2 linked regions of the Homo sapiens genome follow. The protein of the gene in region 2 purifies or fractionates together with the protein of the main gene of each other region. This does not show direct contact. Each region holds a gene or a part of one and is shown on either strand. Other genes may lie near its edges.

What was found.
Region 1: the proteins of GBX1 (region 2) and GABPA purify together in Homo sapiens (affinity purification with mass spectrometry; one large-scale study listed by BioGRID and IntAct). This does not show direct contact.

What each region holds. Positions count from the first base shown.
Region 1 is NC_000021.9:25,737,972-25,741,798, reverse strand, and holds part of GABPA (GA-binding protein alpha chain), read right to left. Parts: intron 1,920-3,827; exon of another isoform or gene 1,767-1,919; intron 1,403-1,766; exon of another isoform or gene 1,312-1,402; intron 239-1,311; exon of another isoform or gene 227-238; 5' UTR 201-226; coding exon 124-200; intron 1-123.
Region 2 is NC_000007.14:151,161,089-151,164,915, forward strand, and holds part of GBX1 (homeobox protein GBX-1), read right to left. Parts: intron 1-3,827.

The sequences.
Region 1 (3,827 bases), on a different chromosome or scaffold from region 2:
TTATTCCCTAAAATACTGAGAACAGTTAAAAAAAGACAGTCCAAAAGAACTATGACTTGTTTCCTGGTTTTAATTAGGTATATTGATATTTTGAAAAAAAATGATAAATTCAGAAACACCAACCTTTCTTCTGTGCACTCTGCTTTCTCTGTTCCATCAATCTCAATTTCTATCAGCTCCTCTGCTTCTCTTTTAGTCATGGCTGGAGTATTTCAAAGGATCAGTCCTGCAAGAGTGACTTTTTAAGATATTTTAAAACTATCCACATAAACGAAATGACACACAAGAAGTAGAGACCCAATCCAAATAAAAAGCAAACGCCAAGCAGAAGAGGGGGAAGTAGTCTTTACATATAGAAGAAAATCAGCTGGGTGTGGTGGCTCATGTCTCTAATCCCAGGACTTTGGGAGGCCAAGGCAGGCAGATTGCTTGAGCCCAGGAGTTTGAAATCAGCCTGGGTAACTTGGCGAAATCCTGTCTCTACTAAAAATACAAAAATGAGCAGGGCGTGGTGGCACGCGCCTGTAGTCCCAGCTATTAATACTTCGGAGGCTGAGGTGGGAGGATCACCTGAGCCCAGGAGGCTGAGGCTGCAGTGAGCCATGATCGCACCACTGCACTCCAGTATGGGCGACAAGAGACCCTGTTTGAAAAATAAAATAAAGAAAATCCACAAATGACATTTATAAACTAATTTTTTAAAAAACTGGTGTTTATTAACCTGACATGACAACTTCATTAATCTACTGGATTTACTGAGATGTTTTCGGGACCAATTGCAATCAACAAGTTACCTCAAAATTAAGTTAAGGGTCTGTTAACTATATTAAAGCAACTCAGTCTCAATAACAGATTCAAACCTGAAGCTTAACATGGAGATGAACTATGTTTATTCAGCTGAAAGTTGTACCTTAGTAGCAGAATTTACTGCAAAGTATCACACTGATACAATGATATGCAAATTAATCAGCTAGGATTTGGTACAAATGATGTCTCTTATAAATGCAAGAATATTATAAAACAGCAAAACAAAGTAACAAATTACAGATATGCACATTATTTCCCTGATTACACACAGTAGAAAATTTTTAATGATTTTTTCAGAGGTGGTTTTATTTTAAACAGACCACTACTTCAGTTTTTAATTATCCCATGTAAAATTTTTATCTATTGCTTAAAACCACTGATACAAAAACATTAGAATTTTAAAAATGCTAAAGAATACACAAATAGCTAATATACATAGATATTTCTTTGTGGACATGTCTGAGGTGTTAATACTGTTAAGTACCAGGTTCTGTTATTAACTACCTCGCAGTAGGTCAATGAATGTCTTTGAATTCCATACGCACTTTCAGTCCACAGCACCTTCTGAGTAGTTATTCTAAGCGTACTACCACATCTAAAAAGAGGCGTACCTTTAAAAGGAACGCTCCACTAAATTTGGTATTTCGACATTTACAAAAGAGTTGTGCTCCCACTTACAAGATTTCACTAAATGAAGAATTTAAATGTTCATTTGTATTAACCATTACTCGCCGAGCATCAGGCACTGCATTCAAATGCTTTGCATAGAGCAATCTTATTTTGAGCTCCATCTCATACGAACGCTATTCAGAGGTGAGGCTAAACCACTTGTGGCTCCATGTCACAGTTTTGGTGTATCAACCTAAGTAGGTATCATTCCAGATGGGGATGAACCATGGTTGTCCAAATATAGGCTCTGTATTGCGTATATCAGTACAACAGCCACCACCACCCCTTACCTGGAGTACTGCAACAATCTCCTAAAGGGGGTCCCTGTGTCCACTCTTGTCCCCTCACAGTCTATTCTCAGTCAATACAACGGCCAGAGTGTGATCGTTTTTAAAACGCAGCTAGGGCCAGATACGGTGCCTCATGCCTGTAATCCTAATACTCTGGGAGATCGAGGAGAGAGGACTGTTTGAACCCATGAGTTCAAGACCAGCCTGGGCAACATAAAAAGAACCTGTCTCCTATAAAAACATTTTTAAAATTAGCCAGGCATGGTGGTGTGCAACTGTTGTCCTAGCTACTTGGGAGGCTGAAGTGAGAAGATCGCTTGAGACCAGGAGTCGAGGCTGCAGTCAATGATGATCGTGCCACTGCACTCCCTCCTGGGCAACAGCGAGACCCTATCTCTTGAAACAAATAAATAAAAGTAGAAGGTCCTTAAAAGTAGAAGAGGAAATTGGAAGAGAGAGCCAGAGTGATTCAATGTGAAGATCTGCCGGTTAGCTGTGACTGGCTTTGAAGATGGAGGAAAGGAGCTTTGAGCCAAGGAATGCAGGTAGCTTCTGAAAGCTAGACAAGGAACGGATTCTCCCTCGAAGGCTCTAGAAAAACAGCACTGGCAACACCTCATTTTAGCCCAGAGACCTACTTCATATTTCTGACTCCAAAACTGTAAGATAATAAACAGGTGGTGTTTTTAAGCCACTAAATTTGCATAATTTGTTACACTAGCATTAAGAAACTGAGTCTCCCTTCCCACTTTAGAAAGGGCTATAACTCTCCTAAGTTCTCAATATCTCCAACTATGGGGTAGCTGGTTTTCTGACAAATAGCTGGCACCCAAATCTAGACTGCCTGATACAAAATGATCTAATTTTTCCCACGTAATTAAGGTTGCTCTCAGGCTTGCCCTTTAAGGACGAACAATAAAAGGGTAAGGTTCTCCACTGGGATGGACGCATGCATATGGAGCAGACTGCGCAGGCTCCGTTCACAAGCACATCTAGCCGACTGCGCAGATTCTGTTCACGTGCATATCTAGCAGAATGCGCAGGCTCCAGCAGGCTTTTTTGGGGATGATGAAGAAATGAAGACCCTCTGTTTTTGGTTTTTTTTTTTCTTGCTGATGCTGGTCTAATAAGCCTTCCTTTTCTCCAATAAAGCCTATTCCTTAACTGGTGCTATGTGTAAAATTGTGGAATTCATCCTGAGGGCTGAAGAAAACAGGTGGAAACCGAGTAGGGATCTACCTTGAAGGACAACATAAGCTTCCAGGGCAAGAATATGTGTTCACAAATATATACAAAGTACTCTGAAGAGTACTACCTTCAGCAGGCACTCCACCAATATGTGTTGAATAAATGAATAAGAACTATTTCACACCATATAAAATGAACTACACATGCCTTAAAGGATTAAACATACAAGGCAAAACTATGAAACAGAAGAAAATGGTGGGGACATTTTTGTGGTCTCAGGATAGAAAAAGATTTCTTAAATAAAATTCCAAGAACATAACCGTAAGGAGAAAAATCTGATTACATAAAAATCAAGATTTATGTTCAACAGACAGGCTACAGAATGGAAAGATGTTTCCAATACCCAAAAGTGACGATGGAATAGACAATGGCCTGGAATTTGATAACCAAAAAAAGGGACAAATTAGAAAAGTAGTTAAAGCATAGGAAAAGGATATTCACATAACGGGAAACCAAAATAACTCAGGATACAAAGAAATGCCCAAATTCAAATCATTCAAAAGTTCAATTTAAAACAAGAAACTACCACTTTATACCATGTGTGTGTTGGGGGCAGGGGGCGGCGGCGGCGGCAAATGTCAGAAAATTAAATAACGAGAGCAGTTAGCAGGGACATAAGATTCCCCTATCTCTGGAGATGTGGTGTACACACAGGTGTAGACATTCTGGAGAAAAGTATATCAAGCATACTCATACCTATAACCCAGCAATTTCATCCCTAACTAAGCATTCCAGAAAAATTCTCAAATTGGTTAACAGGATTGATTGACAATGTTCAGGGCAGCTTTATTGGTGACAGCTGGTGCCAATCCA
Region 2 (3,827 bases):
CCTATTACTTCCCAGGCAGAATTCTTGCTTCCTATTGTAACATTTCTCTCAATGCAAAGCACTTTGCTCACAATGCATGTTCTTCCTTCTTTCCAATTAAAATATTTCCCCCATTATTCCAAATATTACCTCTCTGCATTATTCCCAGTATAGTCTACTCATGCCTGCCACTCCAAGTATAAGAATCCTCCTCCTAATCATCTATTATATATATCTCCATATTTACATGTGCCACCTTAGAGACTCTTTCTCTCTGCCAACCCCTGAAGGGTTACTTTCACTATGGCACAGGGCATCTTAGCCTCTGATTCTAATCCTCCTAATAAAATTTTCCTGTTGTCACTCCTGAGGTCTATCTCTGATCCAGGGGGTTCTTCACCCTTTTGTGCCCTTAAGTCCTTTGTCAGTCTGGTAAAGCCTATGAACACTTTCTAGAATAATGCTTTTAGACATACAACATAAAATACATAGTATTACATTTGAAGTCAAGTATATTAAAATATAGTTTAAAACAGAACTTGTGATATAATCATGTTTCTTTATTCATTAAACAAGGTCCCTCCAAAGACTGTAAATGTATATCAAACTATCTGTGATTTCTTTCACTGACAAAAACATCATGCACGCTGAAACAACTATGATTTTTGGCCTATATTCATAGTTGAAGTGATAAAAAATAAAGGTATAAATTTTCTCCCACCCATAGCTAACAGATCCCCTGATGAAAGGTCTGTGGAGTCCAGGTTGAGAGCTCTACTTTAAACACTGAGGCCTAGAGAATTGAAAGGAACATTAAAAATCATCTGAACCAAAACTTTTGGCCCAGCTGAGGAAACCAAAGCCTAGAGAAGTCATGTGACTTTGAATCTCCCACTGTGTCTCAAATATACTAAGTCTGTAGTAATAGACAGACAATAAATGTTCCCTGAATTGAACTAAGTGACTTGTCAAAATTATACAACTAATGAGTGACAAAGGTGAGAATTGAATCCACGTGTCACAACTCCTAAACAAATGTTCCATCAATCACATTAAGTTAATGCAGTATTTGCCTTTCTATAAATGTCAATGCAGCAATCACTCTGACTGTATGCTCAAAAGTTCTAGGAAAACATACTCTGGATCTCCATCACTTCCCCCAAAAATCTCCCTCTTGTTTCTAACAACATAATTCTCTAATTCCACGTCATATTATCATTTTCTGTTTTCCTCTCATAAGTAAATATCATATCTTGACAATCATAATGGATACCTATTCAGAAATTAATTAATGGTCATCCAAATGTTCCCTAGCTACATTCAGGTGCTTAGCTTACGGTAATCAGCACTTGAATACGAGGCTCCTAGGAAGTCTCCCCGGTCTCCTTGCATGATTTCAATTATTATTGCCAATCTGTATTCAGAAATTAGCAAATCTTTTTAAGCTTAGTTTAAAAAAACAATGTTTACTACAACAGCATGTCTCAAGTTTGTCCCATCATATTCCCATATCTTCTATATAACCTTAAACTACAAATGTTTTCTTCACTATGCCCAATACTGGTATTAGTTTTCACGTCAATCTCTCACTACATTTTTGTCATCCATCTAACAAATATATATGGAGTAGCTACCATTCCTCACTTCCTAAGCTTTTGCATTCAGGCAATCCAATCTTCTTTTTCCCCTGAGTGAATAATTGCTCTAGACACCCCCAACTCAAAGTTTTCTTCTGCCTTTTTTTTTTTTTTTTTTGAGATGGAGTTTTGCTCGTTGCCCCCCAGGCTGGAGTGCAATGGCACAATCTCGGCTCACTGCAACATCTGCCTCCTGGGTTCAAGTGATTCTCCTGCCTCAGCCTCCTGAGTAGCTGGGACCACAGGCATGCGGCACTAAGCCCGGCTAATTTTGTATTTTTAGTAGAGATGGGGTTTCTCCATGTTGGTCAGGCTAGTCTGAAACTCCCAATCTCAGGTGATCTGCCCATCTCGGCCTCCCAAAGTGTTGGGATTACAGGCGTGAGCCACCGCGCCCAGCTTTCTACATTTCTCCACATTCACGGCTCTTTTCATCATTTGCCCAGCACATAGCGTCCTTTTCACCCACTGTTGCTGTGATGCATATCTGCACCACATCTTGCACACAGCAAGTTAGCTTTGATTACTCTCAGCCAGAGCTCACACAAACCGTCAGACACACGAGATAATCTCTGCCCATCCCACCTAAGACAGAATTCTGTTCTCTCCTGTCATTTAGTGCTTCCTGCTCTCTTCTCTCCATTATTCCTAATACACTGAGGACCCATTATCCAATTCAAAGCTCCTTTTCCTCCATCACTTTCACATAACTCTGTTCTTAAAACTCTCTAGATCCGTCATGTTGAATACGGTCACCACTGTTCACCTGTGGCTACTGACCAACTGAAACATGGCTAGTCCAAATGGAGATGTGCTGGAAGTGTAAAATAACACTGGAGTTTGAAGACTTAATATGAAAAGAAGATATAAAATTATATCATTAAAATGTTAATATTGATTAATGTTGAAATAATATTTTGGACATCTTGAGTTAAATAAAATTAAAATTAATTTTACCTATTTTTATCTTTTTAATGTGGCTAATAAAAAATTTTTAATGACATATATGGCTTGCATATATCTCTACTAGCCAGCACTGCTTTGGGCTCTTCTATTGAGTCATACTTTAATCTTTCCTAACAGTTCGGAATTCTCTCCTCTTTATTACTCTTACTAAAAGACATTCTCTCAATTTTCCCCACTGCTTCCCACATTCCAAACTTGTGATTCTTTTCAATCTACCATTTTCAATAACTTTCTACCCAATTACTTCTATATATCATATTTCTTTTCACCTGCTAATATAGCTTCTACTCCTGCAATCAAGTCATAACAAAGTTCCTTTTATCCTTCCTCAGTTCTAGTAGAGAATGGTACCTGTCTTAACTCTCAACAAATTAAAAAAAATAGTCCCTGTAATTCCCAAAGAAAATCACTAATCATTCTCCAAATTGGCCTATCTACACTATGATTTTATTTAAACGGGTTAGCAGTTGTAAAACACTAAACAAATGTAAATTAATAATAATTTCAGACCCATGTCACTCATTCACACAAGGAAAACAATTTCTCCTCTGTCATTTTAAAGATTGCATTATTTCTCCAAATTCTTCTAATGTTGAGGTTTCAATCCCATTATTCACAGCAGAGAGCTCTGTCATTTCACTCCAAATACTTTAATACAATTCCCAAAACAGAGTATTTGTTTTCCAACCAGTTTTAGCCTGGGTCATGTGTCATCAGTCCCCAAATTGATATTATGTCTCTCATTTCTGGAATTGCATTTTCTTTTCTCAATGATTTCTGGAAAAACTCAAGATTGGGAAGGTGGATATGAATGGCTTGCCCAGGAAGAGTTGGAAGCGTGTTTACTGAGAGTGACAGAAGCAGCCGTCACAGATAGGAGCTCTCATTCCTCATGCTCTTTGAATGTTTCTTCTGAAGTCTCTCCTCCTTACTACTGTGTCCCAGCCTCCCCACTATAAACCCTTTACATGTATCTCCTCCCAGCATGAGTGATTACCTTTATTCCAGCACTTTTTCAAAATTCTTCCTCTGTAAGTTCTCCTTTCCATTATTCTTGGCAAAAAAAATTCCTTGCCTTTACTCCAAGAACAACACAAATTTCCCTCTTTTTTTTTTTTTTTTTTTTGCTTTCAACATTTTCCTCGGATGATGAAGCTCTGTCATTTTATATAAATTCCAGTTTCCCCTCACTCTCAATATTAAAAACTCTTTAAAGAAAATTACTCCTAGTGTTGAAACTTTTCC